Homo sapiens: one gene and its partners. The protein of the gene in region 3 interacts with the protein of the main gene of each other region in a biochemical or structural test. Each region holds a gene or a part of one and is shown on either strand. Other genes may lie near its edges.

Region 1 (7,843 bases), on a different chromosome or scaffold from region 3:
TTGGGAGGGGGAGTCCTTTTGGGGAGAACTGGGGGAGGTCAGGCCCAGGCCGGGCTGGCTGGTCAGTCCTGTGACTCGTGGGCCTGGAGAATTCCCCCTCCTCTCCCCGCCAGGCTTCCTCACAAGGCCCCCATTGTCCAGGAAAATCATGCCATTGTTTCCTGCCTGTGCCCCCCACCAGCCCAGGGACTCCCCCCACCCCAATCCTGCAGACAGCAACTTGGGCCTAGGACTGGGGTCTCCGAGGTTAAATGCCAGGCTCAGGGAGGCTGAGGGCACCTTGCCTGCCCTTTACCACCACCTCCCAGACTCTGAGAGGGAAGCAGGGGAACTAGAGGGGAGTAGGGGAGCAGTTCCAGGCTCCTTCCTCCCGCAAGTCCTCCACCCCAAGCTCTTTCCTCCCCTGCAGGCAGCTGGGCTAGGGAGGGAGCAGGGGCTGGAGCAGGGACAGGAAGCCGGCTCAGGGGCAGCAGGAAACGCAGGAAGCAGTGGGGAGGGTGGGGAGCAGGGGCCTGGGCTATTGTTCCATTTTTTCTGGAAAGAAAACGGAGGAAAAACAGAAGATGGGAGTCCCCTCCCCCTGTGCCTTCGGGGAATCCCCCTCAGATTGGGGCAGGTAGCGGGGGTCCCTAGATAGTTAGAGCCCAGGGTTGAGGCTGAGAGGTGGGAACCGCACCCTACCAGGGATGAGAAGAGTGGGTAGGATGGTTGGCAGGCCTCTCCTGGCTCCCCCAGTCCTGGCAAGAACTTGGATATCTGGGGCTCAGCACTCTGTTTCCTGCAAGCCCCTTGTCCATGGTCAGCCCAGGCCAGGAGGCTCAAAATATCCACGTTGACCCCCCTCTAAGAATGTCTCATGCTTTTCCAGTGACCACACTGAGCCTGGCCCCTCCTGCATTTCCTACTGCTGCTCTCCAGCCTGCACTCTGGGCTCTAGGAGGCCCCTGCTCCTGGTCCCTGCTGTGTGCTGGGTCCTGCTTCCATGCCTTCTCTCTCTAAATGCTGCGTGCACCAGGAAACCCTCTGAAGCTGTCACTCACTTCTCTTGGGCCATGATGGGCAGCGTGTCGGGGGCTTGAAATGATGGGAGATGGAGTCTCCCTTAGCCCAGCACTCCCATCCCAAGCACTGATTTCAGGCTAGGCCCTCTTGGCGATCCAGCCCTCAAATGTCCATCTCCATGGCTGAGGACCCGCTGTGGGTTGGGGATCGCAGGTCGGGCTTGCCCAAGCTGTTGAGCTGTTTCACTCTCCCTTTTTACAGATTCTGAAATTGAGGCTCCGAGTTGGAGTAACCAGCTAGAGGTCATGAAGCCAGGGAGGGCTAGGCCAGAATTCCAGCCCTGGCCTTAGCCTTGACTGCCAAGGAGGGCTTCCCTCTCTGAGATATCTGTTCTGGAGGAGCTGCCCATGACGACGGGAGGGGAGGACAGAGCACCAACTCCACGAACATGAATTTAGGGGAGGAGAAGATGAGGAGCACGAGCTTCCAGAGGACTTCCTTGAGGTGGGAGCCATGGCTGGGCAGGATGCTTATGGCCCACCTGAGAGATACCAATTTCTTAACTTGTCCAAACCGCAGCTGCAGGCTGGGGTCAAGGACTTCTGAAGCTGGCGCAGGAAGACTCTGCTGGGTGCCTGGGGCTCTGTTTGGGGGCTAGCTTGAGCCCATGGGCACCCCTGGTCAGCTGGGACCCCCTAGGGTGGGAGCTCCTACCTGCAGTAGACCCTAAGCTAGGCTCAGTGGAAGGTTGGGAGCAGGTGTGTACCAGAGCCATGCCACCCCCAACCATGCCCCCAGAAACTCACTGTTGTTGGACTTGAGATCACGGTGGATGACGGGCACCAGGGCCTCGCAGTGCAGGTAGTGCATCCCACGGGCAATCTGCACAGCCCAGTTGACCAGCACATGGGGAGGCACGCGCCGCCCGGCCAGAGCTCGGCTGAGGGGCCCACCGGCTGCATACTCCATCACCAGGCACAGGTTGGGCTCCTCCAGGCACACAGCCTTGAGGGCAATGATGTTGGGGTGTGCCAGCATGGCGAAGAGCCGGGCCTCCTGGCGAACGCTCTCGGCTGTCACACTGATGTCCTCATCGGGGTCCTGGCGAGCTGCCTTCACAGCCACCAGCTCACCTCGCCAGCTGCCCCTGTACACCTTGCCAAAGCCTCCAATGCCGATCACCTCCTCCAGCCGCAGCTCCTGGAAGCTGGCCACCTCGCAGGGGGGCGGGCCGCCACCCCGAGACACATAGTTGGACGGGAAGATGCCCACCTGGCCACCCACCTGGCCCGCCCACCAGCCCTCGTCTCCTGAGATGGCTGCGTCCCGGGACAGCACCTCCACACGGTCACCCTTCCTCAGGGCCAGCTCATCCTGCCCACTGGGCTCGTAGTCGAACAGGGCTGTCCACACCGGGTTGGCATAACCCGCTGCCTTTGGAGACCCCTCAGGCCGGCCTCCTCCACCGCCCCCACCACCCCCGCTGCCACTGCCATTCCATGACCCTAGAGGGCTCTTGAGGAAGAGGCTCTTCAAGGGCTCCATGGCCGGGAGCCGGCGCTGGGATGTGTGGAGGACCTTCTCTGGGTGCCCGTGGTCCCCACCCCCGCTGGCTGCCAAGGCCCTAGTCCCGGAACCTGGGCATCCGGGCCCTGGCCCTCAGCCCCAGACCCACGCCTCTCTGGGGAGCCAGGAGTGTTGTCTCCCGGCCCCCCGCATCTCGGGCTTCTGGAGGAGGGCACCCAGGGCAGTGTGGTCAGGCCGGGGGGGTGGGGCCCCGGGGCCTCCGGCGCCTCACCATGGCTAGCTTGGAGGGACCCGAGCTTCCCTCGGTTCTGGAGCAGTCCTGGGAGCCTGGCTCCGGCCCCCGCCAAGTGTAAGGTGGGGCCTTCAGGGGCAGCGCCTCAACTCCGGTTGGGTCTTTTTGCGCAGGGGGTGGAGGGAGCGTCCGCAGTTGGGCCGAGACTGCCTGTTCCTGGCCCCGTCTCCTTTGGCCCCGACGGCTCCGACCCCGCTCCCTTCTTCCTCCTCCCTTTGTACTTTGGCCCCGGGGGCGGGAGGCAGAGGTGGAGGGTGGAGTTTCACTTTTTTCCGCTCTTCTCCCTCCTGCAGGAAACAGCATCAGATGACGCGGGCGGCCTGCACCGCTCCCCTCCCAGAGGCTCCAGGCGGGGAGTTCCCGGGTAGGCGGGCCAGGAGAGGCAGAGAGGGAAAGGGCAGAACCAGATCCCCCATCACAGCAGGCTTTTGAGATCTAGAAAGAAAAGCCCCCAGCTGCGTGCTCTGCTGCCTAGGGTGGAGGTTGGTCTCTGCTAAGGATGGGCCATCTCTGCCCTCTGCATCCGCATCGGCGGCAGCAAAACGGGGTTACAGAACCACACTTGGGAAGGGGGTGAACCCGAGTCTGGTCTTGGCTGCGAAGTTGTGGGACTGTGCGATCCATCGATTCTGAGCCTCATTATTTTCTTTCTTTTTTCTTCTTTTGAGACGGAGTCTTGCTCTGTCGCCCAGGCTGGTATGCAATGGCGCAGTCTAAGCTCACTGCAACCTCCGCCTCCCGGGTTCAAGAGATTCTCCTGCCTCAGCCTCCCGAGTAGCTGGGACTACCGGCGCGTGGCACCACGGCCGGCTAATTTTTGTATTTTTAGTGGAGACGGGTTTCACCATGTTGGCCATGCTGGTCTCAAACCCCTGACCTCGTGATCCTCCCGCCTCGGCCTCCCAAAGTGTTGGGATTACAGGCGTGAGCCACCGCGCCCGGCCATTCTTTTCATATATGATATGAGGACGAGAAAGCTCTGCCTCGTAGAGCTAGTTGGATGGGGTGGGGAAGACTGGAGGACAGACGGAACTGGCTGCACCTCAAGCTCTTGGAGTGGATTGCCTAAGGCTCTCTTCTTCTCCTCACCTGGGAAACAATCCGCTTCTTCATATCCCTTCCCCATTGGCAGAAACCTGAGACTTGTCCAGAACTTTGCCCAGGATTGGATTCAGAATAGCTGAGTCGCCCTCACAACTTCTGGATAGGGCTGCCCCAATTGCTTTGAGCCTGTCACTTTAAGAAAGACGACGCTATCCTATTTCGACTATTCCTGCCTGTTACGGAAGGTTGTTCTCTACACCCTAGGTCTGAGCTCTGACCCGGAAGTAGACGCCGCTGGGAGCGAAATCGGTCGTGACGTACGAGGTCCAGCATTAAAGGGGGCGGGCCGAGAGGGGCGTGCTTCGGTAGTGCAGAACTCTCGCTGCTACTAGGGGAGTCCACGCCTCCACCTTTTCCCCGCCTCCTGTAACTCATTGGAAGAGCTGTGCGCCAATTACTTTGCCGTTACCCAATGGCTACTCAACTGTCTCTTTGGTTCCGCCCAGTCGTCTACCCTGGGTTGGCAACGCCTGGGTCTACGCATGCGCCCAAACGCTTTTACGCTCGAACTTGCTTTAGTCCTGGAGTCTGCGCACGCCCAAAGGGCACCCCTCGCGTCCTACCGCGCCATCACCTTTCTGCGCTTGCGCATTCATGCCGTCAAGTTTTCCTTTTCCGGGTCCCAATTGGAATCGTTGGGCGCATGCGCCACTGCAGGCTGGCGGTTCGCGGCTCCTTCTTCCGGCCTCCTCCTTAGGCCGGCACCAGCAGAAGCCGGGCGAGCGCGGAGCCCCAAGCAAGTGACCTGCGACCCCGAAAGTGGACCCCAGATCCTGGGGTTCTCCCTGGTCCGGAGACTAGGGAGCTGTCGCCTGCACCCCGGGAGCACCCACCCCACGACCACCTCTGGATGCCGCCGACGGGTACCCGGCCCGTGCCCCGCGCCTGCCTGCCGGCTCGGCCCCTCGGAGCAATTCTGGGCCAGGAGTGGGGACCCGGACCCCGCCCCTGATGCAGCCCCACCCCCGCGTCCGGGCCTTGCACCACTGACTGTCCCGGCCGGCCCCGCCCCCTGCTCGCACCCTCGCGCGGCCGAGCCCCCCTCCCCCGCTGGGGGAGGCCATGGCGTGAGCGTGAGGCCGGGCCCCGGGGCCCTCAGGCGCCAGACGGGGCATGGGCCGGGGGCCGCCCCCATGAGGGTCCCGGGAGGGGGGGCGCGGGCAGCAGCGGCGGGGCCATGGGGTCGCAGGTGTTGCAGATCCTGCGCCAGGGGGTGTGGGCCTCGCTCACCGGCGGTTGGTTCTTCGACCCGCACCAGAGCACCTTCTCCAACTGCTTCCACCTCTATGTCTGGATCTTCCTGCTCATCTTTCCCTTCTTACTGTACATGGTGAGACGCCACGGCCACCTGTAACTCCAGCCGGGAGAGGGAGGGCAGCCTGGCAGGGATTCAGGGCAGTGCCCTGGGCTCTGGGACGTGGAGAGAGAGGAATCACTGCAGAGTTTGGGTCTGTGTGGAAGAGGGGCCAAAGTCTTCCTTTCTTGGATCGAGTGACCTTGAACCCTACACTTAATCTCATCCAGCTAAGCAGAATACAGAGCCCTTTGTCGAGGTCTGTGTACTGGTTGTGTGGAGAGGTGATGAAATTTTCTTGTGAGTCTGTGAATCCCAGCTATGATGTTGATGGCAGGTACATCCTGTGGGGGCGAGGCTTTGTGAAAAGGGACCTGGCTTACTTTCATCTTCAGGTCCTGCCTCCCAGCTTGATGGTGGCCGGCGTGTACTGCCTCGTGGTGGCTGTCATCTTTGCTACTATCAAGACTGTCAATTATCGGCTTCATGCCATGTTTGACCAGGGCGAGATCGTGGAGAAGCGCAGCTCTACCATGGGGGAGCTGGAGGAAGAGCCTGCCCAGGGGGACAGCAATCCACCCAGGTGGGTGGGGTAGGGGCTGTGCTGGGGATTGAGGGTTTTTGGTGCCTGGGCCGGAACCTTGCAGGGTGGAGTAGGGGCTTAGGGAACATTGGCTCTCTGAGTGATTGTGAACACTTGTCCTGTGTTAGCCCTGGAATTGTAAAGTGACTTCTGAAAAAGAAGCAGTGACAAAGATGGGAGGAAGTAGCATACACAGAGGAGAGGTTAGCTCAAAGCTGCTGCTCTTTTTCACCGCCAGGGACCCCGGAGTGGAGATGACAGTGTTCCGGAAAGTCAGTTCCACACCCCCGGTGCGCTGCAGCTCCCAGCACTCTGTGTTTGGCTTCAACCAGGTCTCGGTGAGTGGGCCTGGACCTCAGCTTGTCCTCCTGTCCCTCTGCGAGCCAGTCCCTACTGTGGGTGCATCCTGAGCCTACTTCTTGCCTTGTTTGTTCCTTCATGGCTCTCTGTCTACTCAGGAGCTGCTGCCCCGAATGGAGGACTCTGGGCCCCTTAGAGGTAGGTGGCTGCTCTTCAGGGTTGGAGCATAGTGCTGTGGAACAGGGGCTGGCGTGCTGTGCCAGGGGGTCCTGCTGACACCTCTGGGGCCATGGTTGCAGACATCAAGGAGCTGGTGCGGGAGCAGGGCAGCAACAATGTGATCGTGACTTCTGCCGACCGAGAGATGCTGAAGCTCAGCTCGCAGGAGAAACTGAGTGCGTGGGCCTTATGGGGCCGAGGCTTGTGGGCTAGACCAGCTGTTTCGTTGTTGAATCCCCTCAACTTTGGCTCCATCCTGGGTCTCCTCTGTATTCCTCTGTGGGACCTCCCCAGTGTGCTGCTGTGGCTGGGCTCTCAGGGAAAGTACAGGGCATAAGACCTCCCTTAACCACTAGTTTGTTTTGCAGAAAACCCTTTTTTCATTTTCTGTTTCCCTTTATTTTGGCAGTTGGAGACCTTCCCCAGACGCCTCCAGGGGCTGTCCCAGACCCCTCTCTTGCCAGTACAGACTCTTCAGAGCCTTCTCCCCTGGCTGGAGATGGAGCGCCCTGGAGTGGGAGCAGCATGGCTGACACTCCCATGAGCCCCCTGCTGAAGGGGAGCCTCAGCCAGGAGCTGAGCAAGAGCTTCCTGACCCTGACCCAGCCTGACCGGGCCCTGGTGAGGACCAGCAGTCGACGGGAACAACGCAGGGGGGCAGGTGGCTATCAGCCCCTTGACCGGCGGGGCTCAGGGGAGCCCACGCCCCAGAAAGCCGGCTCCTCAGACTCCTGCTTCAGCGGCACTGACAGGGAGACATTGAGCAGCTTCAAGAGTGAGAAGACCAACTCCACCCATCTGGACAGCCCCCCAGGGGGGCCAGCCCCTGAGGGCAGCGACACAGACCCACCCTCTGAGGCTGAGCTGCCTGCCTCACCAGACGCCGGGGTCCCCTCAGATGACACGCTGCGTTCCTTTGACACGGTCATTGGAGCAGGGACGCCACCGGGCCTGGCTGAGCCGCTCCTGGTCGTGCGGCCCAAGGACTTGGCCCTGCTACGGCCTAGCAAACGGCAGCCACCCCTGCGAAGACACTCTCCACCTGGCCGTGCCCCTCGACGGCCCCTGCTTGAAGGTGGGGGCTTCTTTGAGGATGAAGACACTAGTGAGGGCAGTGAACTGAGCCCGGCCTCCAGTCTCCGATCGCAGCGCCGCTACAGTACTGACAGCTCCTCTTCTACTTCCTGCTACTCCCCTGAGAGCTCCCGGGGTGCAGCAGGGGGACCCCGGAAGCGGAGGGCCCCCCATGGGGCTGAGGAGGGAACTGCTGTGCCCCCCAAGCGGCCATATGGGACCCAGCGGACGCCTAGTACCGCCAGCGCTAAAACACATGCCCGTGTGCTGAGCATGGATGGGGCTGGGGGTGATGTTCTGAGGCCCCCACTGGCTGGCTGCAAGGCAGAGCTGGAGGCCCAGGTTGGGGTGGAGCAGGCTGCTAGTGAGCCTGTTGTGCTGCCTGCTGAGGCGCGAAGGGGACCCGCTGCCAACCAGCCCGGCTGGCGGGGGGAGCTGCAGGAGGAAG
Region 2 (7,466 bases), 5.4 Mb from region 3:
GTGGGCTGGGGGGGCACTCCCTGGGGAAGCCTCCAAAAGCGCTCTTCCTTGCAAGCCCTGAGCTCACCTCGCTGTGTGGTACCAGGTGCCCCCTTGACCGATCCGGACCTTGGGCTGCGGTGGCCGCCTAGGCGGTCAGGGGCTGCAGCCAGCACCCCCTCCCGCTGAAATGCCTCCATATGTGCCCAGAGCTTGGGGTTGGCTCCTGCACAGCCAGTAACAGTGGTGGCACGGCGGCCAGGTTTCGTAATAAACCGGTCTCTTAATTGCTGCAGGGTAGGAGGAGAAGGAAAAAAAAAAAGAGGCATAGATTTGTTGGAGTCGGTGGCGGCGCCTGCTGCGGAGAGAAGGGGTACTGTTTCTGCACGGGAGCCTGGAGCTGCTAACAGGGGCTTAAGTAACACTTCCTGGTGAGCTGGCGGGGGTTGTGGGGGGTGAAGCGTGTCCCCGGGGAGGGGGCAGGGGTCCTAGTTGTTCTAGAAGCCGAAAACATACAAGCAACCAGAGGCTTTAGAAATTTATTACAAGGCCCTCATAGTAGAAATAAAAATATAGATATCTATGCTTCCCATCTCGCTCTCAGTGGTTCGAATAACAAGTGCAAGTAACAAAATAGATTGTCTCTATAATTCGCAAACTGGGAGTTCATGGGTACAGAGCAACTTCAGCCCCAGCTCCCAAGTCCCAAAGTGTGGTCTTGTCGAGGGTGCAGACAAGGACCAACCAAGTTCAACCAAGTCTCTCGTATGCAGACGCCAGCTCCAGTCTCAAGGAGGGTGGGGCTTGCAGTCAGTCTCACTCCACCCCCGAGTGGACAGTCTGGACCCTCCGTGATGGGGAAGGCGGCAGCGTGCCCCGCCACTCCGGCTTCTGCTCCATCCCAAGGCCTCAGCTTCGGGGGTCCTGTCTCCTGCTGGCCTGGGTCCCCCCTTCTCCATCGGATCGGCGGCCGCCAGCTCCTGGATCTCCGCCCTGGGGGCGGCCGCTCACTCCCCTTCTCCTCCTCCTCTTCCTCTTCAGTCTCCAACGACTCTGCCCCCGATGGTCCTCGTGGGTTGGGTTGTTTTGGGGGGGTTGTGCTGGGGGGGAGGGGGTTCAAATATTTATTGTATTTTTTGTTTGTGGCAGCAACTCAACAGATTCTGCTGCTGGGAAGGGCCTCAGCGTTCCTGAAGAGAGATGTAGGGGACCCACTGGTTGTTGCCCCGGCTTTCTTCGCAGTAGCTGGCCACCTCCACCAAGCCGTGGCTCTTCCAGGCGTCCGTGTGAGGGTTCTGTAGGAGGGAAAAGAAGGGGTTTAGTGGAGCCTCCCTCTCCCGGGGCCCCTGTGTGGGGAAAACAGTCAGGCTCAAAATAGCTTCCTGGGTGAGGAGGCCCCAGCCCGGCTGCCCACGGGACATGCCAAACGTGGCTGAGCGCTGAGCTGTGCAGGACCAGTCAGCCCGACTTTGTTGACAAACACCGGCCCAGGTGCCCGGGCGTGGCGGGGCAGGGCAGAGGCCCGACTCACCGTGACCAGGAGACAATGCAGGTCTCGGGCCTCGGTGGTGCCCTGGGTCTCGGCCGGCTCTCCCAGGAGCTGCGCCAGGCGCTGCATGCCCGACACCCGCACGATGTTGATGTCGTTGTCACAGCAGAAGGACTGGATGAGCGTGAAGTGGATTTGCAGGGCGATGTCATCCTCCTCCTCCTCGTCAATGGCCAAGAGGCAGAGGACCACGCTGTCTGGGTCCCTGAGGGGGCCAAAGGGTAGGGATGGGTCAGCCGGGGACAGGGGAGGGGCCACCGTGCAGGGGGAGTTTGCAAAAAAGGAGCGTGCAAGAGCAAAAGAGAAACTGCAAGGGTGCAGGGGATTGCCTCTGCAAGCTGGTGACGGTGGGGGGAGGGGAGGGCACACGGTTCAAAGTATGGGGTAGGGGGAGACAGGCCCACGGCGGGAGGGGTGTTTGCAGACGATACATCAGGATACGGCAGCCCCCGATCCACAAAACGGCAGAGAAGCTCTGCATCCACAGCGGGGGGCACTTGGGGAAGTCCCAGCTCCATGCAAGACAAGCGTGCGGAAAGCGTCCAGAGCGGAGGGGAGGTCCCGTCCCACCCGCGCCCAGCCCGGGAAGGGGGTCTGACTCACACATTCATCAACTTGGCCGACTCGTACACCCCCACTGTGAGGCGATCCTGGCGCTGAGCGGCCACCAAAAGCTCCTCCACCGCGGCGGTCACCGTCTGCATCCTGAGACCAGGAAAGAGGGATCAGTGACGGGCGGACCACCGGGTGCTACGTTCCGCTCCCGGCCCGGCCCAACCCGACCCATCCCGTCCCGGCTGACCTCAGGCGGCGGCAGCCCCGGCTACTTACTTCTGCGCCGCGTTGTCGCACGCCACGAGCTCTTCCAGCGTCATGTTGCAATTATAATCCACAGTGGATGCGGCTCCACGGCAGTCCCCAGGGAGAAATTGCAAAATCCGAGCCAGAGAGCCCAAAACCTTCCCACAGAGCTAGAGCGCTCGTCCAAGACCTTCGGGAAGCAGCGAAATCCTTCCAGAAAAGGCGGAAAAATATATTGCAAAGTCCTTGGCGAGGATAATCCAGGAAGTTGCGGAAACCAACGGTAGTCCGACGCTTCGGCGATCTGAGCTGGGAGCCTCCGGCACCGACTTTTATAGACTTGAACATTGGGCGTGGCCTCAGTGGAGTCATTCGCCCCTCCTATTGGTGGAAAGACAAGGGCGAGTGCAGCTAGCTCTGCGGTTGGCCGACGGAGGGGAGGGGGAGGAGCGGCGTGCGGGGGCGCCCCACGTGGGGGCGAGAACCGGGAGGAGGGCGCGCGGGGGCCGGGTAGGTGACCGCGAATGCCAGAAAAGAAAAAAAAGCAGAAGTTTTTTTCTCCTGATTTCCCGGCAGCCGAGCCGCGGTTCGGGGCGCGCGCGGGATTTCCAGCGCGCGAGGCGGCCCGGACTTTCGGGGGGGCCTGGAATCCCCTCCCGATCCGCGGAGAGTCCCGGACCGCGCCTTTCCCAAGTTCTGCTGGGGGTGGAGGGGCTGCACCGGGAAGGGGCCCCGTTTGCAGCGTGATCTCGCCCAGGTGGTGGTGAGGGCCGGAGTCTCTCCTGGCTGCGACGACCCCAGCCCCTGGGTGATTTCGCTTCTCCCGGCCTCTCTGTTCCCGTCTGAGTAATGGGTCTGCAGCGCCGGCCTCGCTGGTTTGCAGAGCATGGCATAAAATACGGCTGACAGTAAGAGCCCAATACACATCAGCTGTCACCTGGTGGTCGCGGGAGGCCTCCTCGAGGGCCCCGAAAGTGGGAGGTTGCAAAGCCCGGGGCGCTCTGGAGAAGAAAGTGGGCGCCTCCTCGCCGACCCCGCGAGTATCAGGGTGGGGTGCGCGTGGGAGGTGCAGGTGGCGCGGCCCCGCCCCCGCCGGCTGCCTGGCGTTCCAGCCTTTGCCCGTGCGGAGGCCTCCAGGCCCTGGAGAAAGCCATTGTTGAGGGGAATGGTGCAGGCTCCGGCTGCACGCCGCCACCCAGGGCCCACGTGCAAGGATGACGGCTACTTTTATTTCTCACTCCGGGGTGGGCGCTGACCTGCATTGAGTGCGTGGTGCGGACCTGGTACCCCCCACCCCTCCGGATTCATGGATGATTTAATCCAAGACCTGGGAAGCAGGGGGGATGCTTATGTGCATTATGCAAAAGGGGAAACTGAGGCTTGGTGAGGCCATAGGCTAGTTCGTGTTGGAGCCACGCGTGTGCGCCAGGCACGGCCGCCTGCAGGACTCCGCCGCCCCGGGAAGGCTGTTCAGGAGCGAGGCTGGCAGGCCCCGCATGACAACGTCTCCCACGGTCGACTGGGGGCTCCCGGGTGACTCACATCTGAGTCCCCTCCCCCGCCAGCCTGGGGTCTGGCCTCCGCCCGGCGGCTCACTTTCCCCAGTTGCCCGGCTCCCCGGCCCGCGGGTCCGGCTGACGCATCCCACCTCCTCCGCGCCGCCCACCGCTGGGGCACGAAATGTCCCGGGGCTGCGAGGCGCGGTGGCGCCATCTGGTGGCCGCGCCGAGTTTCTGCGCCCTCAGCGCCGGAAGAGAGGGACGGACGGGCGGGGCACTGGGCTGGAGGCGGGGGATAAGGGGACCGTGGCGGTTGCAACGTTTTATGTAACTTTATGCAATGTTTTACGCATGCAACATACATATTTATATTTTATAATTTCAATTTAAAAGTTAAATCGGCCGGGCGCGGTGGCTTACGCCTGTAATCCCAGCACTTTGGGAGTCCGAGGCGGGCGGATCAACTGAGGTCAGGAGTTCGAGACCAACCTGACCAACATGGCCAACATGAGCTGAAGATAAGGAAGATCAGGGAGGTGGGTGGGATAAGTGCAAAGTCAGATTCTGTCTTTATTTACAATTTTGATATTTTGTTCCTCATGGATACTTGGGCATTGATTTTGATTTTTAAAAAGTATTGCAGGCTGGGTAATCCCAGCACATTAGGAGGCTGAGGCGGGCAGATCGTGAGGTCAGTTCGAGACCAGCCTGACCAACATGGTGAAACCCTGTCTCTACTAAAAACACAAAAATTAGCTGGGCGTGGTGGCACGCGCCTGTAATCCCAGCTTACTCAGGAGGCTGAGGCAGGAGTATCACTTGAACCCAGGAGGTGGAGGTTGCAGTGAGCCGAGATCATGCCACTGCACATGGCATGGTGACAGAGAGAGACTCCATCCTCCCCAAAACAAACAAACAAACAAACAAACAAACAAAAAGGCCGGGCACGGTAGCTCACTCCTGTAATCCCAGCACTTGGGGAGTCTGAGGCAGGAGGATCACCTGAGGCTGGGAATTCAAGACCAGCCTGACCAACCTGGAGAAACCCCATCTCTACTAAAAATACAAAATCAGTCGGGCGTGGTGGCACATGCCTGTAATCCCAGCTACTCTGGGGGCTGAGGCAGGAGAATTGCTTGAACTTGGGAGGCAGAGGTTGCAGTAAGCCGAGATTGCAGTGAGCCGAGATCGTGCCACTGCACTCCAGCCTGAGTGACAGAGTGAGACTCAGTCTTTAAAAAAAAAAAAAAGAAAGAAAGAATGGGGTGTGTTGTGTGCACCCAGCTACTCCGGAGGCTGAGACAGGAGGATCACTTGAGCCCAGGGGTTCCTGGCTGCAGTGAGCCGGGATTGCACAGTTGCATTCCAGCCTGGGCAACAGAGTGAGACCCCGTCTCAAATAAATAAATAAAATAAGGGCTGGGCACGGTGGCTCATGCCTGTAATCCCAGCACTTTGGGAGGCTGAGGCAGGTGGATCATCTGGGGTCAGGAGTTCAAAACCAACCTGGCCAACATGGTGAAACCCCGTCTCTACAAAAAATACAAAAATTACCTGGGCATGGTGGCACATGCCTATAATCCCAGCTACTCGGGAGGCTGAGGCAGGAGAATCGCTTGAACCCGGGAGGTGGAGGTTGCAGTGAGCCGAGATTGCACCACTGCATTCCAGCCTGGGAGACAGAGCGAGACACTGTGTCAAAAATAAAGCAAATAAAATAAATAAAATAAGGCGAGCAAAGCAGGGCCTCAGAGAATATGTGTCCAAGTCCTTCTTCCGTGTGTCCCCCGTGCCAGCCATAACAACCTCCTCTGCGAGAGGCCCAGCCTTTGTCAGCTGTTTCCTCCGCCTGGGATGCTGTCTTCCTCTGGTCTTCAGCAGGAAAACCCTACTCCTCTGTCAACACTGACTTGGCCTTGTTTTCTCCCAGACTGACTGCCTGGACCCCCATGGTCCTCCACCCTCCAGGCTTCTCTTTCTAGACCCCAAGCCCACCTGTGCCTCCTTTTTCCAGCCCTGGCTCCAGGCATCTTAGAATATCTGGAGTATCTTGGAATATCTTCAAGAGACTCTGAGCTCTGTGCCTTTGAGCTCAGAAAATGAGCTCCAGCCGGGCCAGGCGTGGTGGCTCATGCCTGTAATCCCAGCATGTTGGGAGGCCGAGGCGGGTGGATCACCCGAGGTCAGGAGTTCAAGACCAGCCTGGCCAGCATGGTGAAACTCCATCTCTACTAAAAATATAAAAATTAGCCAGGCATGGTGGCGCATGCCTGTAGTCCCAGCTACTCAGGAGGCTGAGGCAGGAGAATCGCTTGAACTCGGGAGGTGGAGGTTGCAATGAGCCGAGATCGTGCCACTGCACTCCAGCCTGGACAACAAGAGTGAGACTCTTTCTCAAAAAAAAAAAAAAAAAGAAAATGAGCTCCAGCCTCAGTTTCTTTCTCTGTAAGATGGGAACAGTCACACAAAGGCTTCATCACAGGCATTGAAGGAGGAAATTCCCAGAATCAGGTAAGCACTCAGGAAATGTGTGCTATTATCTTTGGGCTGGGCGCCAGAACTCACCTCTGTAATCCCAGCACTTTTGGAGGCCGAGGCAGGAGGATTGCTTGAGCCCAGGAGTTTGAGACCAGCCTGGGCAACATAGGGAGACCCCATCTCTACAAAAATTTTAAAAATTAGCCGACCGTGGTGGTGCGCACCTGTAGTCCCAGCTACGTGAGAGGCTGAGGTGGGAGGATCACTTGAGCCTGGGAGTTTGAGGCTGCAGTGAGCTATGATTGTGTCGCTGCACTCCAGCCTGGGCAACAGAGGGAGACCCTGTGTCTAAAAATAAAATAAAATAAAAAATGAGATCAATAACAGTGTCGCCGAGGCCATCTTGGAGCCTGAGGTGAGAGGAATAATCAGTATGAGTAATCCTGTCATAATCTTTTTTTTTTTTTTTTTTTTTAGACAGAATCTCGCTCTGTCACCCAGACTGGAGTGCAGTGGCGCAATCTCAGCTCACTGCAACCTCCACCTCCTGGGTTCAAGTGACTCTCCTGCCTCAGCTTCTCAAGTAGCTAGGACTACAGGCGCCCTCCACCACACCTAGCTAATTTTTTGTATTTTTAGTAGAGACAGGGTTTTGCCATGTTGGCCAGGCTGATCTCGAACTCCTGACCTCAAATGATCTGCCTGCCTCGGCCTCCCAAAGTGTTGGAATTACAGGCGTGAGTCACCGTATTTGGCTTTAAACAAAATAAATTTTTAAAATTTTATCCAGCATAGAGGTTTTTGCATTCATTCAGAGTTAAAAAAAAAATGTGGCCGGGTGTGGTGGCTCACGCCTGTAATCCCAGCACTTTGGGAGGCTGAGGTGGGCAGATCACGAGGTCAGGAGATCGAGACCATCCCAGCTAACACAGTGAAACCCTGTCTCTACTAAAAATACAAAAAATTAGCCGGGCGTGGTGGCGGGCGCCTGTAGTGCCAGCTACTCAGGAGGCTGAGGCAGGAGAATGGTGTGAACCCAGGAGGTGGAGCTTGCAGTGAACCGAGATCGCGCTACTGCACTCCAGCCTGGGTGACAGAGCAAGACTCCATCTCAAAAAAATAAGTAAATAAAAATAAAAAATAAAAAAACGTACTGCAGG
Region 3 (6,963 bases):
TGCCACCATGCCCGGCTAATTTTGTATTTTTAGTGGAGACGGGGTTTCTCTATGTTGGTCAGGGTGGTCTCGAACTCCCGACCTCAGGTGAGCCACCCGCCTCGGTCTCCCAAAGTGCTGGAATTACAGGTGTGAGTCACTGTGCCTGGCCTAATCTCTAGTATTTTTAATGCAGACAGGGTTTCACCATGTTGGCCAGGCTGGTCTCGAACTCCTGACCTCAAGTGATCCACCCTCCTTGGCCTCCCAAAGTACTGAAATTACAGGCATGAGCCACTGCGCCTGGCCCAGTTTTTAAATTTTTGAGACAGGATCTCGCTGTCACCCAGGCTGGGGTGCAGTGGTGTGATCATGGCTCCCTGTAGCCTCAACCTCCCCGAGTGTTGGGATCACAGGTGTGAGCCACCGTGCCTGGCCTCCCCAGAGGCTTTGTTCAATTCCCACCGTCTCCAGAGGTTCCCCCAGGCTGGCCCCCTGCAGGGCCGCTCACCCAGCTAGAATGTTCTCTCTGGTGGGAATGTGCTCCTTGTCCAGTGGGCCCCCCTATTGCAGCCCCCCGCTACAGAGGAGAGGGGCTCCATCTGTTCTATTCACTGCTGTGTCCCTGGCGCCCAGGGCTGGTATGGAACCCGGGGGGTGCTATGTGTTCACCTAGTTGTTGAGAGAGATCCATAGGCACAGGCCACCCACCCACCAGGCCCAACTTTCTCGTTCTCTCAGTTACACACACACAGGCGTGCACCCCCCCCACCCCCGGAGGCCACAGACTCCCATTCAGTGGGGGAGCCCACCTCCTCCTCCAGGGAGTCCAAAGTGGAGCTGGGAGTAAGGGAGGGGGAGGAGGAGGGAGGACGCAGAGGAGGCTGGGCTGGGCTGACCGCTGCTTGAGTGGAGTGAGAGAGAAAGTGAGAGTGAGGGGAAGGGACATGGGGACACACACAGAGCATGGGGGCTGGGGGACGCCATTCTGCGGCCGGGGCAGCGGTTAGGTCAATGGTGCAGATGTCCAAGCAGCGATGATAAAAAGGCTGGTACCTGCTCGTTGGGACGGGGCAGGAGCAGGGCTTAGAGTGATCACAATAACTGGATGGGGAAAAGGAAGAAAAAAACAACACCACGATAAATCACAACAGAAACGACTGATTCGTCCAAAAGAAAAGAAATCAAATCATAAACGAGGAGGAGGGGGAGGCACCGAACTGCAGAGATGGCTAGGAACCGACAGAGATGGGGAGGGCGGGGAGGATGGGATGGAGTTGACACAGACAGAGACGCCTGGAGGGGACTCCTCGGGGGCCTGCCTGCCACCGGCCTCCTAGCTCTGCATGGGAACGGCCACCCCTGAAGGCACCCGGGATCCTGGACTCAACCCTGTCTCATCCACTCAGGGGCCAGGGAGGGCGGCCCCCAGGGGCTAGCAGGGACCCGTGTCTTGGCTGGGCTTCTTGTCTCAGGCAGTGTCCTGCACCAGAATCCCCACCTCCATGATTTCTCTGGACCCCCAAGAGACTCCCCAAGGAGGAACCCACGCTGACTCAGGTCAGGAGAGGGAGGGACAGGAGGGTGTCAGGCTGTGAAGGTCAGGCTGGGTGACCAGGGAATGGGTGGGGTGCCCAGATACGGGGGTACCTTTCTCGCCTGCCATAATGACTCCATAGAGAGAACTAAATAAACTACGAAGGTCACATCAGAGGAGACAAGAGAGAATTTTACTGGGTCAAGAAAGACACAAAAAGGATCATGGGTCAGGGGTGGTGTTCACAGGGTTTGAAAATCTAATTTCCTCCAGCCCAGAGGATTTAGAGACCAGGATCTTGGGGAAAAAGCCGGGAGACTAGATATGGTCAGTGTTCCCAGGCCAGGTGTGTGTGAAGCGAGAGGTACTGATCTAGGATGACAAGGTGTCAGGGAGGTAGGTACCGAGGTGGTGGGACTGATCAGAAAGCAGGTGGATGTATGCTGGGGCGCGGCGGGAGCAGGCCTAGAGTCACACTGGCCCCAGGTGTCCCCAGGTCAGGTGGGTGTGGGTGTGAAGGGAAGGGGAGCCATCACTTGAACACAGGTGACAAAGTCACCGGGCTGGCTGGGGGTCGATGTGCATTTCTGGAGGTCAGACACCACACGCTCACCAAGATGGTGGCAGTGAAACTGGTCACAGGGATTTGCGGGGCCTGGTGTATGTGGGAGGGGGTCTGCTGAGCCCAATGCCATGGTCACTGTCGCCAAGAGGGGGAGAAGGGACCCCCTCCCGTCCCCCCACCTCAGACACGGTCACAGGGAGAGCGAGAGGGAGAATCCTCGGGTCAGAAGAGATGGGGAGGGGCTCTATGTGGTCAAGTAACCTCAGGTGTCCCCGAGCCAGGCGTGCGCGTGTGCGTAGATCGTCGCTGCACGGGGCTGACAAGCCCCCAGGCCGGGGGAGGGGGGCGCCAGACAGTCCCTGAGATGACGAGAGTGGTAGCATCAGGTCAACAGGGACGTGTCTGTGTTTTCGGGGCGACCTGGATGTGGTCACTGTCGCGTGGAGTCGGGGAAGCCCGACCCAGAGGATCACGGCGATGGGGGCGGGTCATCAGCTGGGGGCCTCGCCTGGGTCCGGGAACTGGGCTCCCAAGCCCTGAGGGTGCGAACCCCCCGGAGCTCGCCGGCTCCACGCCCCCCGGGTCACCGTGACCCTCGCCCCGCGAGCCCGCAGCGGGGGGGGCGGAGAGGAGAGCGAGCGCCCCGGAAGCGGGGGCGGGGCCTTGTGGTGGGGGCGGGGCCTCCCGCGGCGCGCGCCCCGCCCCGCCCGCCCGCCCCCTCCCCCACGCCGCCGTGCTTACTGGGCCTGGGCCGCTGGGGGCTGATATCCAGGTTGAGGTCGATCCTCCGCCGGGCCTCCCGGTTCTCCTGCTTCAGCTTTGCTTCCAGGCGGGACAGCTTCTGTTCCAGGGAGGACGCCGCCATCTTCCCCGCCGCCACCGCCGCCGCGCACCGCCCGGCCGCCCGTCAGTCCGGCAGACAAACACCGCACTGCGCCTGCGCCCGGATGACCCCGTCGAGCCGCCGTCTCGCCCCGCACCGCGCATGCCCGCGGCGCGCACCCGCCCTTCTCCGCGTGCGAACCTCCGCGCGTGCGTGCTTCGGCTCAGCCCGAAGGATGACGCCACCTAGAGCTCGAGGCAGGCAACGTGCAACCCCCGCCTTCGTCGCCACCACCACCGTAGTGCGCATGCGCCAATTCCCGATCGCTCCTGAGAGAGGCGCTGCGAGGAAACACCATTCTTCTGAGGACGGTGGGCGGGGAAAACGGCGCGCATGCTTAGCGAGGCGAAGCCGTGTTCGCCCGCGTGGCTTTTGCGCATGCGCATTCCTGGAACCTCGTTCCCAAAGCGGCAGTCGATCCCTGGTCTCCACGGCGGTGCAGCCTCAGCCTCCTCGCTTTTCACGGTCGGCTTGGGCGTCCCTTCGGAATGCCTTCCTCACTGATGGTGCTTTATTAGGATTCCTCTTGTGCTTAATTACCTCCTAGCCTCCTGCTGGCAGCGGGGTGCCGCCTCCTCACCGTAATTAGGCTCCGTCGAGAGCCCTTTCCCTTCTTGCCAGCCCCAGCAGGCTCAGAGTTGGCCGAAGCCAGGGGGGAGGGGACGGCCATGGGAACCCAGCGGTGTGACCCCTGCCCTCGGCGACGGGGCCAAGGTCAAGGCCAGAGTTGTTGGCCAGACCCACATAGAACCTCAAGACACCCCCCTTATCTCTCTCGCACCCGGAACGTGAGCCCAGCGCCTGGACGTGGAGAATTCCTATCTGAGGAGGGGCGCTGGGGTTAGGTGCCAGTGCTTGGGCCCCCGGCAGCCTAAACCACTCCTTTAAGTGGTCCGACGGGTGCTGGGGAAATGTCCCATCTGGAACCCAGGGATCCCCCCAAGAGCGGCTTCCCTCTGCTCTTAGATGCGAGAAGGAAGTTCTGATTTTGCGGACACCCGGGAGGTGGCCAGGGCCAGGCAGACTCTGCCAAGTGCCCTTCCAGCTTCTGGTCCAACGAGGGAACACTTTGGGATGAGAGTTACCGGCTTGTCGGAACTCCTCTGGTGACGATTTGTGGGTGGAGCACACACAAGTGTAGAGTTATAGCTGAGGTCTTTACCTTTCCGTCTTCCAGGCAGCCTTCTGTGCCTCTGCTCTGAGAACATGAGACTCATCCTTGATTCTGGCACACGGGTGTTACTTGGTCACATGAAATAAAAGGTTACGGGCATGGTGGTTCACGCCTGTAATCCCAGCACTTTGGGAGGCCGAGGCGGATGGATCACGAAGTCAGGAGAGGACCAGCCTGGCCAAGATGGTGAAACCCCGTGTCTACTAGAAATACGAAAATTAGCCGGGCATGGTGGCAGGCGCCTGTAATTCCAGCTACTTGGGAGGCTGAGGCAGAGAATTGCTTGAACCCAGGAGGCGGAGGTTGCAGTGAGCCAAGATTGCGCCACTGCACTCCAGCCTGGGTGACAGAGCCAGACTCCGTCTCAAAAAAAAAAAAAAGAAAGAAAAACAGGGTCTTGTTCTGTTGCTCAGGCTGGAGTGGAGTGGTGTGATCACAGCTCACTGCAGCCTCAACCTCCTGGGTCCTGGGCTCAAGCAATCCTCCTGCCTCTGCTTGCCTAGTAGCTGGGACCTCAGGCACACATCAGCACACCTGGCCAACTTTTTTTTGTATGTTTTTGTAGAGATGAGATCTCACTATGTTGCCCAGTTTGGTCTCAAGCTCTTGAGCTCAAGCGATCCTCCCACCTGAGCCTCCCAAAGCGCTGGGATTACAAGCATGAGCCACTATGTCTGGCCCTAATGGACGGTGTTAGACAATGACAGGAGTGCACATAAGAGATCAAAACTAGAACTTGCATAATTAGTATTATTTATTAAGCACCCAGAGAACAGTCAAGACCAAAGTCCCTGCTTGTCCTTGGAAAAATGTCACCTCTATAGCAGGTGTCCTAACCCTGCAGTCCACCCACCTTAGGAAGTCCTTGAATAGCTCTCTGGGGGAAATCTATCAGCTGCCTGAAGAGCTTTGTGTGTATTTGTACACCAGCATTTTCCTGAGGAAGGAGGTGCCTGGCTTCATCAGTTTCTCAAAGGGTCTAGGACCTCAAAAGGGATCAGAATCTAGATATTTGGATACCCTATTTTTTTTTTTTTTGGCAGAGGTGGGGTCTCGCTATGTTACCCAGGCTGATCTCGAACTCCTGAGCTCAACCATCCTCCTGCATTGGCCTCTCAAACAGCTGGGATTATAGTCATGAGCCACAGCGCCCGGCCCTGATACCTTTACGTCAGCATTTCCCAACATACTGTCTCAGGGCCACTTACCTGCACCAGAACTACCTGGAATATTTAGGAACAGACTCCTGGCCCCCAACCAAACCTCCTGAGTCAGTGTTTCAGGGGAGGGGACTGGGATATTTTGTTTTGCACCGACTCCCTAGGTGATTTTGATGCTTAGCCAAATGAGAACCATTGTTCGGAGCTAACATATAACACAGCAAACAACTGTGTCTGTGTCCTCTCCTTGGGAGAGAACTCCAGAAGTAAGTTGCTTTGTTGCATGGGGAGGGGGAGTGTTGGAAATCCCACTGGGATGTGTCGTTTCCCCCATATGTGGCACTAATTGAGCTGGAATATCCAGGGAGAGGCAGCAGTTCTAGGGATGGGAGCAAGGCCAGCCAGCCTGCCAGAGACACAGGTGTGGTTTTGGTCGGAGAATGCCATGACTGAGTTAATCCCTCCATACCAGGTTCCACCCCAGCTCCACAACATCCTGTCTGTCTCCCCAGACAAACCAGCCCAGATCCTCCTGGGCCCCAGAAAGATGACACAGCTGCCCCCGCCCCCCCCATCTCCTGGCCTGGACCCACTTGGCTTCCTATCTTGGAAGACAATGGTTGAGATTCCAGGGCAGAAGCATTTTTAAGGCTCTACCTAAAACGGCCCCACCCCAGCTTCATTCCTCCTCCATCTTGTCCCGCACTTCTGCCGGCAGACCCTGGTAAAGCGTGTCTTCCACCAGGAGCCCCGCCTTCTTGAGCCCCCCACAGTTGCCAAGTTCTTCTGGCAGCGCCTCTAAGCGGTTGCCTTTGAGCTCCAGGCGGCTGAGGGCTCTGAGGGCACCCACGTGGGGCGAGAGCTGGCTCAGCTGGTTGTCGCCCAGAAGCAACGTCCGCAGCTTGCGGCAGAAGAAGAGCTCTTCGGGCAGGGCCTCCAGGGCATTGTAGGAGAGGGCCAGGTGCTGTAGGTTCTGCAGGAGGCCCACCTCGGGTGGCAGGGAGTGTAGCCCATTGTGGGACACATCCAGCAGACGGAGGCCTGAGCACAGGCCGAGCTGGGAGGGCAGGGTCTCCAGCTTGTTGTAGCTGAGGTAGAGCTGCTCCAGGCTCCTGAGCTTCCGCACGTGCTCAGGGACGTAGGCGATCTGGTTGTGCCACAGCCTGAGCGTGACCAGCTTCCGGCAGTGCTGGAAGCTGAGGATTTCCTCGATGGAGCGCAGGTGGTTGTCCTTGAGGTCAAGTTCCTGCAGCGCACCCAGGCTGAACACTGCATGGGGGATGCGCTCCAGCCCGCAGGCCACCAGCTCCAGCTCCCGCAATGCCGCCAGCTTCTTGAGGCTGTTCAGGGCAACCAGACGGGCCCCATCGTTGTGCAGGCTGAGCCTCTGCAGGTGGCCAGCAACGTCGGTCACACTGGCTGGCACCTTCCCGGCGTTGCTCCGGAGGGACAACACCTTGAGCTGCTTCAGCTCCCGGAGGCTCTCCAGGGTGGCTGCCCGAGCTAGCTCCTGGGGGAAAAGCCCCTCCAGGTGCAGCTCCTCCAAGCCCCGCAGCCCAAACACCCAAAGCGGCACCTCGCGGAGCTCCTCGCATTTGACGCGCATCACCTTCAGGTGGTCCCGCAGGAAGACCTGCAAGGAGAAGGGTAGCCTGGCGGGCGAGT
Region 4 (7,410 bases), on a different chromosome or scaffold from region 3:
GAAACCCTGTCTCTACAAAAAATAAAAACATTAGCCAGGTGTGGTGGCACACATCTATAGTCCAACTACTCTGAGGAATGAAGTGGGAGAATTGCTTGAACCTAGGAGGCAGAGGTTACAGTGAGCTGAGATTGCACCACTACATTCCTGCCTGGGTGACAGAGCAAGACCCTGTCTCAAAAAAAAAAAAAAGTGGGTATTGTAGTAATGCAGCAAGAGACCAAGAAAAGTAGGAGGTAGTGATCAGAGACCTGGCTGCATAAAAATGAAGATTCGGGAAATGGTGGCGTTAGGACTTCACCATGGTGAAGGTAGAACTCTTAATTTTCATCTTTATTAAATGTGTCTGTTTGCAGTTTTAACCATTGGCATATTTATTTTGTGTTTGTGATTTCTGTGAAATATGAGTACAATAAATACTGATAGTTTGCATTTGTTTTCTAATCTCTCAGAAAGTTGTCAGAAAATGTTCTCTGACTTTTTAGAATTGCTGTGGTCAGGACTGTGGAAGCTGTTGCGATTCCAACTCTCCCTTCTAAGTCCAATCAATTTTGTGCTTTGTAATGTCTATGCCATTCGTGCACCATAGAGGGAAGAAAGCGTTAAAATGGTCGCGTCACAACATCTTGATTTGTCATTGAAGGAGAAGGAGTCTGGAAGGACGCTGACAACGGGTGGTGGTCAGGAAGGAAAACCCAGTGCCTGTGGCCCAGAGGCTGGAGGAGGAACTTCAAGGAGGGATGTTCAGCTCCCTGTGGACCCCCATTTGTTCATCCATACAATGATGCTCTGAGGAGCACACAAGGAAGGTGCAAATTTGATAAAATGTGCATGATGTAAGGAGCATAAACCCCCTCAGGAAAGAGTTGCTGCCTTTTCACTAATGTATCCCTGAGCTGCACAGAGCAGCCCTGGGGGACTGGGAGGACATGTCCCCGGTGTGAGGAGCAGGGGAAAGGTGAGCCTTAAATGATCACCAACAAACAACAGGGCCTGTGTCTGGGGCTTACACCACGACATGTGGTCCTCGCAGCACCATTGCTCAGAGGAAGAAACCAAGATCTCGAGGAACTGAGTAATTTGCCCACGTTCAACAAGTTGGTGCAAAATGAAGAGTGGCTCCCGTATTTCAGACTTTAAGGCCGACGATCTTCCATCTGTGCTCTGGGGGCAAGATGGGAGGTCCACAGATAAAATTGCGGGCGGTATCCCCCATCTCATGGTCTTTACGCTCATGGGACCTGGGAGTGACCATCTTTTAAGAGGGAGGGAAGGAAGGGGAGAGGCTTGAGGAAGGTTTTGGGGATTAGGATCTAAGATGAAATTTGAGACTATAAGACTTCAGATTGGATGCTGTGGCTCATGCCTGTCATCTCAGCACTCTGGGAGGCCATCACCTGGGCTTGGGCCCAGGAGTTTAAGACCAACCTGGGTAACATAGTGAGACCCTGTTTTTACAAAAACAAACAAAATGCCAGGTATGGTAGTGTGCACCTGTGGTCCTAGCTACTCAGAAGGCTGAGGCAGGGGGATTCCTTGAGCCCAGGAGTTTGAGGCTACAGTGAGCTAGGGACACACCACTGCACTCCAGCCTGGGTGACAGAGTGAGACCCTGTCTCAAAAAAAAAAAAAAAAAAAAAGATTTTAAGCTTGCTGCAATTCCAGATGAAGGTAGATCCTGGAGGCACTTTGTGGGAGAGGTCACTACACTTGAGTATTAAAGACTGTTGACAGATCAGAAATCAAGGAACTGACTGACCAGGGTATTGGATGGGTCATTTATGTGGATGTCCAGATGAACCAGTTTGGTGAAAAGACTCAGGATCAAAAGCCAATCTGGAAAGTTGAGGTCAAACTCTCTGTGAAATCTGGGAAGGGATCTGGATTTTTTGGGAAAGGCAGGGAGTGGTTAATAGGCCCAGACTCCCTCAGAAATGGGGAATGTTCTTAGTGCTTCTAAAAGGGAAAAGACTGTTATGGCAAAGACCTGATGCCCCAGACTGGGTTAGAGACCATAAGCTCTCTCATTCATTCATTCACATGTCTGCTAAGCACCTACTGTTTGCCAGGCACCATGCTTGGAGCCTAGGGCTTCACAGAGAGATGACAGCCTCTCTTCTCTCCAGCCAACCCAAGTCAAGAAGGCAAGCATAAACTAGTAAATGGCTTTTTTTTTTTTTTTGAGATGGGATCTCACTCTGCCCCCCAGGTTGGATGCAGTGGTGTGATCTCAGCTCACTGCAACCTTTGCCTCCTGGGCTCGGCCAATTTTTTTTATTTTTGGTAGAGACATGTTTCCAGGCTGGTTTCAAACTCTTGAGCTCAAGTGACGCACCCACCTTGGCCTCCCAAAGTACTGGGATTACAGGTGTAAGTCACTGTGCCCAGCCAAGTAAATGCCATTCTTAGAAAAATACTGTAATTGGCATAAAATATAAATTGTGATGGGACACCAAAGAGTGCAGGTTCAATCAGGCCCTGGCCACAGGCCTCTCTCTGAGCTGGAATGGTGATACCCCCCTTCCCGACTTGCATGAGCTCCTTCTGCCATGTCGTTTCTGGTGTTTGTCACTCAAGTGCCTTGTCCTTTCCTAAGGAATAATTTTCCAGGCCAGGGGCGGTGGCTCACGCCTGTAATCCCAGCACTTTGGGAGGCCAAGGAGGGCAGATCACCTGAGGTCAGGAGTTTGGGACCAGCCTGGCCAACATGGCAAAAACCCATCTCTACTAAAAACACAAAAATTAGCCGGACATGGTGGTGATTGCCTGTAATCCCAGCTACTCGGGAGGCTGAGGCACGAGAATCGGTTGAACCCGGGAGGTGGAGGTTACAGTGAGCTGAGATCGTGCCACTACACTCCAGCCTGGGCAACAGAGCAAGTTCTGTCTCAAAAAAAAAAAAAAAAAAAAAAAAAAAAAAAAAAAAAAGAATTTTCCGCAGAACTAAGACATAAAGAAATCTTAGGGCACATAACTTTCATCAAGGGGGAAAAGGGATTGCGCTTTTGTTGAAATGCCAGCCTCCTTCTTTAGCCAATATTTAGCCAGGTGCTGTGGTTCACACCTGTAATCCCAGCACTTTGGGAGGCTGAGGCCAGAGGATAGCTGAGCCCAGGAGTTTGAGACCAACCTGGGCAATACAGAGAGAGCCGGTCTCTCTCTCTCTCTTTTTTTTTTTTTGAGACGGAGTCTTGCTCTTGCCAGGCTGGAGTGCAGTGGCGCAATCTCGTCTCACTGCAACCTCCGCTTCCCGGGTTCAAATGATTCTCCTGGCTCAGCCTCCCAAGTCGCCGGGACTACAGGCGCCCGCCACCACGCCCGGCTAATTTTTTTGTATTTTTAGTAAAGACGGGGTTTCACCATGTTGGCCAGGATGGTCTCTGGTCTCGATCTCTTGACGTCGTGATCCACCCGCCTTGGCCTCTCAAAGTGGTGGGATTGCAGGCGTGAGCCACCGCGCCCAGCCACCGGTCTCTATTTTAGAAAGAAAAAAAGTGTCCTGCAGTCTCTCCCTAGTTCTGCGCCCTCAACCCTGATCTCCCGCCTCCTCCCACAGCCACCGTCTCGAGCTCAGCTTCAACCATGGCCCTCCCCACAGGGCTCCATCCCAAGCCAGAGCGGGTCAGTTCCCTACACAGGGCCCAGCAACACGGTGCCCAAGAAAAAGTGTTTCCAGTGGGACGCATGTCGCCTCCGTGGGTGCTAACTTCTCCCAGTGCCCGTCGGTACGTCCGTCCGGCTGTGCAGTCTCTACTGAGTGCTCAAAGTCCACTTTTAGCCCCAGCCAGCATCCTCTGAGTACCTTGTGCTCGATTCTGAATCCAGCCCTGCTCGGCGACCCTCGTGCAGACGTCCCCGTGCAGCCCCGGTCAGCACCCCGTGGGGACAGCTCCGATCAGCACCCGACGGCGGACAGCTCCTCCCGCGCCTCCCGCCTCGCCCGCCACCCCGCTCCGGGCCGCACCCGGGTTAGGGTTCCTGGGGGGATCCTGGGCGCGGCGGCGCAGCTCCCGGGGCCGCCCCGGCCTCTCGCCCAGAGGAAACAGCCCACGGCGAACCCGAGGCCCGCGGACCCCGGCGCTGCCTCCTCGGCCTCCCGCCCCGCGCGGGTCCTCCAGGGCGGGGCCCGACGCCCACCCGCCCGCCCCTTCCCTCCCGCCCCTCCCCGGGAAAAATCCTCATCGCACGCCCGGCCCTTCCCCAACCAGCGCCCGGCAGTGAAGCCGCCGCCTCTCCTCCAACCAGCGTCCCCGGCCGCGTCCCTCCCCCGCCTCCCCCGCCGCCCTCCCCGCGCCGCCGCGGAGTCCGGGCGAGGTGCGCGGGGCGGACGCCGCAGGGCGTGTCACGAGGTGAGCGGGGCGGGCCGAGCGCCGGCGCGGGGCGCGGCGAGGCTCCCGCACCCCCCGCCGCAGTCGCGGGCCTCTCCCGGAGAAGATGGCGGATCGCGCGGAGATGTTTTCTCTCTCCACCTTCCACTCGCTGTCGCCGCCGGGCTGCAGGTACCCCCCTCGGCGCCCGGGCCGGGCGGACCCTCCGCTCCCTGCGCACCCCCCCGACCCCGACCCGGCCCGGACCCCCGTCCCCGCCGCCCCAGCCCCGCCGCCGGCGCGGACCCGGCCCCGGCCCCCTGCGGTCCCTGAGCCTCGGCTCGGGCGCCCCACCCCCACCCCGCTCCCACTCCCTCCATCTTCACCGCGCGTCCCCAGCCTCAGTGACCCCCGGGCCCCGCCGGGATTCTGAGCCGCGCCCGGCCTGGACGGCTGACCTGTCAAGGGTGGAGGCCCTGGGCCGACCCTCTGCGGGGGAGGATGCGGGCGGGATGCGGGCACACCCTCCCGGCGCGGCGTGTCCCGGTGGCCTTGGCCTCTTTCAGTGGACGCCAGACCTGGCCGATAGGGCCCGGCCGGGAGAGAGTGGAAATCAAGCCCGGAGCCCTGCGGGAAGGGACTGGGGTTGGGAGGACGCTGGGCCTCTGGGTTTAGGCCTCACTCCGCCGGAGAGGGGGAGACAAACAGGCCAGACTCTCTTCCCAGAGCAGGAGCGACCCCTCCCCATCTGCCGCTGCCGCGTTGCAGCTCCCCCTCCCCTGCTCTGCAAGACCCTGACCCCAGGGGCCTGGAGCTGCGAGTGGAGGGAGGAGAGGCTGCTGGCTCTCCAGGGAGGCGGGGTGGGAGGGGTGGGGGCAGGGTTGGCTCCTCCGGGCAGGCCTGGCTCAGATGGGGGAGGGGATCCACAGGCGAGCAGAGCTTGGGGGTCAAGATGATGGCAGGATGTGTTCCGAGAGCTGGGGGCTGTGGAAACCACTGGGTGTAGGAGCTGACGCCTCCCTCTGCCCCTCCTCAGGGCCAGTTGCCAGGCAGGGAGTCCAGGGTTGGTGGCTCTCTGACCCTGGTCTCCTTTCCAGGCCTCCCCAGGACATAAGCCTGGAAGAATTTGACGACGAAGATCTGTCTGAGATCACTGATGACTGTGGCCTGGGCCTCAGCTACGACTCAGACCACTGTGAGAAGGTGGGAGAAGAGTTGGGGACACAGATCCAGCTCAAGGGAGGGCCTCATTAGGTTCTTCTTAGCGTTCACTTGGGGTTTTAGGGTGGGTGTGAGCTCAGCCTTGAACCGGGGACTCCTCTGATGGCTCCTCCCCACTTAACCCTTGAGGTTTCCTTGGTATCAACTCTCTCTTATTCCAACACATTGCAGGCCTCCACGCAGGGCCTTCCCCAGCATTCTCCCCGACCCCATCGGTGGCCAGCCCGGGGCAGGGAGGTGCTCCTTTGCTTTGGGTGCCCTCTGTCCTCAGATCACTCCCAGAAAGATCTAATCCCTGGCAGCTGCCATCACAACCTTGTCCCCTCTGCAGCCCTGTGCCCTCGTCTGCAGCTCCCATCTGTCTGTTTCATGTCTCCCCCTGCTGAAATCTTTTCTCGTCCATCTCTTGCTTCTCCTCCTCCCTGTCTCTCCACATTTCTGCTTTCATTTATTGAAGAACATTTCTGAGCAACTGCCATGTGGCAAGTACTGGGGGCTTCTGGGTGCTGGGAGTGGAACAGGACAGCTGCTCTCTGGAGCTGCAACTTAGTAGGGGAGAAAGACTTGTAAGGGACAATGGCTGCCCACGTGTCAAGGGCTGCATTCCAACAGGGACATAAGTTCCACGAGGGGGAAGGGAACCCAATCCACACTGAAGGAATCAGGGAGAATTTCCAGAGGAAATGTCAACCATGCCCTGAGGTTAGCAGAGCCAGGCAGATGGGGTAGGTAGGAGGGAATGGAGGAGAGGAAGTGCCAGCATGGGGAATAACTGTGCCAATGGCCCTGGGGTTGGCGCAAAGTTGGTGAATCCTCAGAGTGCAGAGGCTGTCTCTCCATTTCTGCATCTGTTTGATGTTTACTGAACATCCGCTGAGCCCCAGGTCTTGTTCTTGGGGGCGGGTGCAACAGTGCATAACATGGACATGACCCTGCCCTGGTGGGGCTTGCAACAGACCAAAAACCATGTCCAGTAACTGTAAGTTGTGTTAAAACGCTGCGAAGGGAACACAGTGCTGGTGTCAAATGTGATGGGGTTCTGCAGTTAGATGAGTCTGAAAGTGGGGCTGGGGCTGCTCTGAGAATCCCTGTCATTCAGCTGTAGAGTTTAGGCCCTTCCCAAGAACTGGAGTGATCCCAATGTGTGTTAGGCAGATTTTGAAAACATCGCCCTGTAGACAGAGGGGCAGAGTGAGCTGGAAGGGGCTCTCCTTTGACTGATGCTCCCCGATTTCCCTTCTCCTAGCACCTGGGCCCCTGGGCTACTGCTGCCCTCTGGCCCAGCCCTGCTATCTCCCTCCGTCCTGCAGGACAGCCTCTCCCTGGGGCGCTCGGAGCAGCCGCACCCCATCTGCTCCTTCCAGGATGACTTCCAGGAGTTTGAGATGATCGATGACAATGAAGAGGAGGACGATGAGGACGAGGAAGAGGAGGAGGAGGAGGAGGAGGGAGATGGGGAAGGCCAGGAGGGAGGAGACCCTGGCTCAGAGGCACCTGCCCCCGGGCCCCTTATCCCCTCCCCTTCCGTGGAGGAGCCCCACAAGCACCGGCCCACCACCCTCCGTCTGACCACACTGGGGGCCCAGGTGAGTGCCCGGACCCACAGCTCCCTGGAGCTGAGCCTGGGTTCATAGCACCTGGGCTGCAGCCAGCCCTGCTCACCCCCTGGGAGCTGGCCCTCCTCAGGACCGCCGTCATGTATCTCCACCCCAGGACTCCCTAAACAACAACGGAGGCTTTGACCTGGTGCGTCCGGCCTCCTGGCAGGAGACAGCGCTATGCTCACCCGCCCCGGAGGCCCTCAGAGGTGAGGGGTGGTGGGCCCGCGGGGCGCGGGGAAGCGGGGGAGGAGGGCAGGGAGGATGGACTGGCTGCTGGAAGA

What was found.
Region 1: of the proteins of MAP2K7 (region 3) and MAP3K11, one has a biochemical effect on the other in vitro, tested with the Homo sapiens proteins (2 studies listed by BioGRID).
Region 2: the proteins of MAP2K7 (region 3) and GADD45B form a complex in vitro, tested with the Homo sapiens proteins (2 studies listed by BioGRID and IntAct).
Region 4: the proteins of MAP2K7 (region 3) and MAPK8IP2 form a complex in vitro, tested with the Homo sapiens proteins (2 studies listed by BioGRID).

The regions. Positions count from the first base shown.
Region 1 is NC_000011.10:65,611,210-65,619,052, forward strand, and holds the start of MAP3K11 (mitogen-activated protein kinase kinase kinase 11), read right to left. Parts: upstream 3,013-7,843; 5' UTR 2,548-3,012; coding exon 1,809-2,547; intron 1-1,808. Other genes in the region: PCNX3 (pecanex-like protein 3), read left to right, coding at 5,103-5,255, 5,615-5,802, 6,041-6,140, 6,261-6,300, 6,402-6,497, 6,731-7,843. UniProt on the Homo sapiens protein: Activates the JUN N-terminal pathway. Required for serum-stimulated cell proliferation and for mitogen and cytokine activation of MAPK14 (p38), MAPK3 (ERK) and MAPK8 (JNK1) through phosphorylation and activation of MAP2K4/MKK4 and MAP2K7/MKK7.
Region 2 is NC_000019.10:2,471,296-2,478,761, reverse strand, and holds GADD45B (growth arrest and DNA damage-inducible protein GADD45 beta), read right to left. Parts: upstream 2,636-7,466; 5' UTR 2,404-2,635; coding exon 2,360-2,403; intron 2,234-2,359; coding exon 2,132-2,233; intron 1,734-2,131; coding exon 1,511-1,733; intron 1,275-1,510; coding exon 1,161-1,274; 3' UTR 505-1,160; downstream 1-504.
Region 3 is NC_000019.10:7,899,928-7,906,890, reverse strand, and holds the start of MAP2K7 (dual specificity mitogen-activated protein kinase kinase 7), read right to left. Parts: upstream 3,015-6,963; 5' UTR 2,947-3,014; coding exon 2,823-2,946; intron 1,084-2,822; coding exon of another isoform or gene 1,036-1,083; intron 1-1,035. Other genes in the region: volume-regulated anion channel subunit LRRC8E, read right to left, coding at 5,978-6,963. UniProt on the Homo sapiens protein: Dual specificity protein kinase which acts as an essential component of the MAP kinase signal transduction pathway. Essential component of the stress-activated protein kinase/c-Jun N-terminal kinase (SAP/JNK) signaling pathway.
Region 4 is NC_000022.11:50,596,385-50,603,794, forward strand, and holds the start of MAPK8IP2 (C-Jun-amino-terminal kinase-interacting protein 2), read left to right. Parts: upstream 1-4,408; 5' UTR 4,409-4,434; coding exon 4,435-4,499; intron 4,500-5,404; coding exon 5,405-5,510; intron 5,511-6,838; coding exon 6,839-7,114; intron 7,115-7,241; coding exon 7,242-7,335; intron 7,336-7,410. UniProt on the Homo sapiens protein: The JNK-interacting protein (JIP) group of scaffold proteins selectively mediates JNK signaling by aggregating specific components of the MAPK cascade to form a functional JNK signaling module.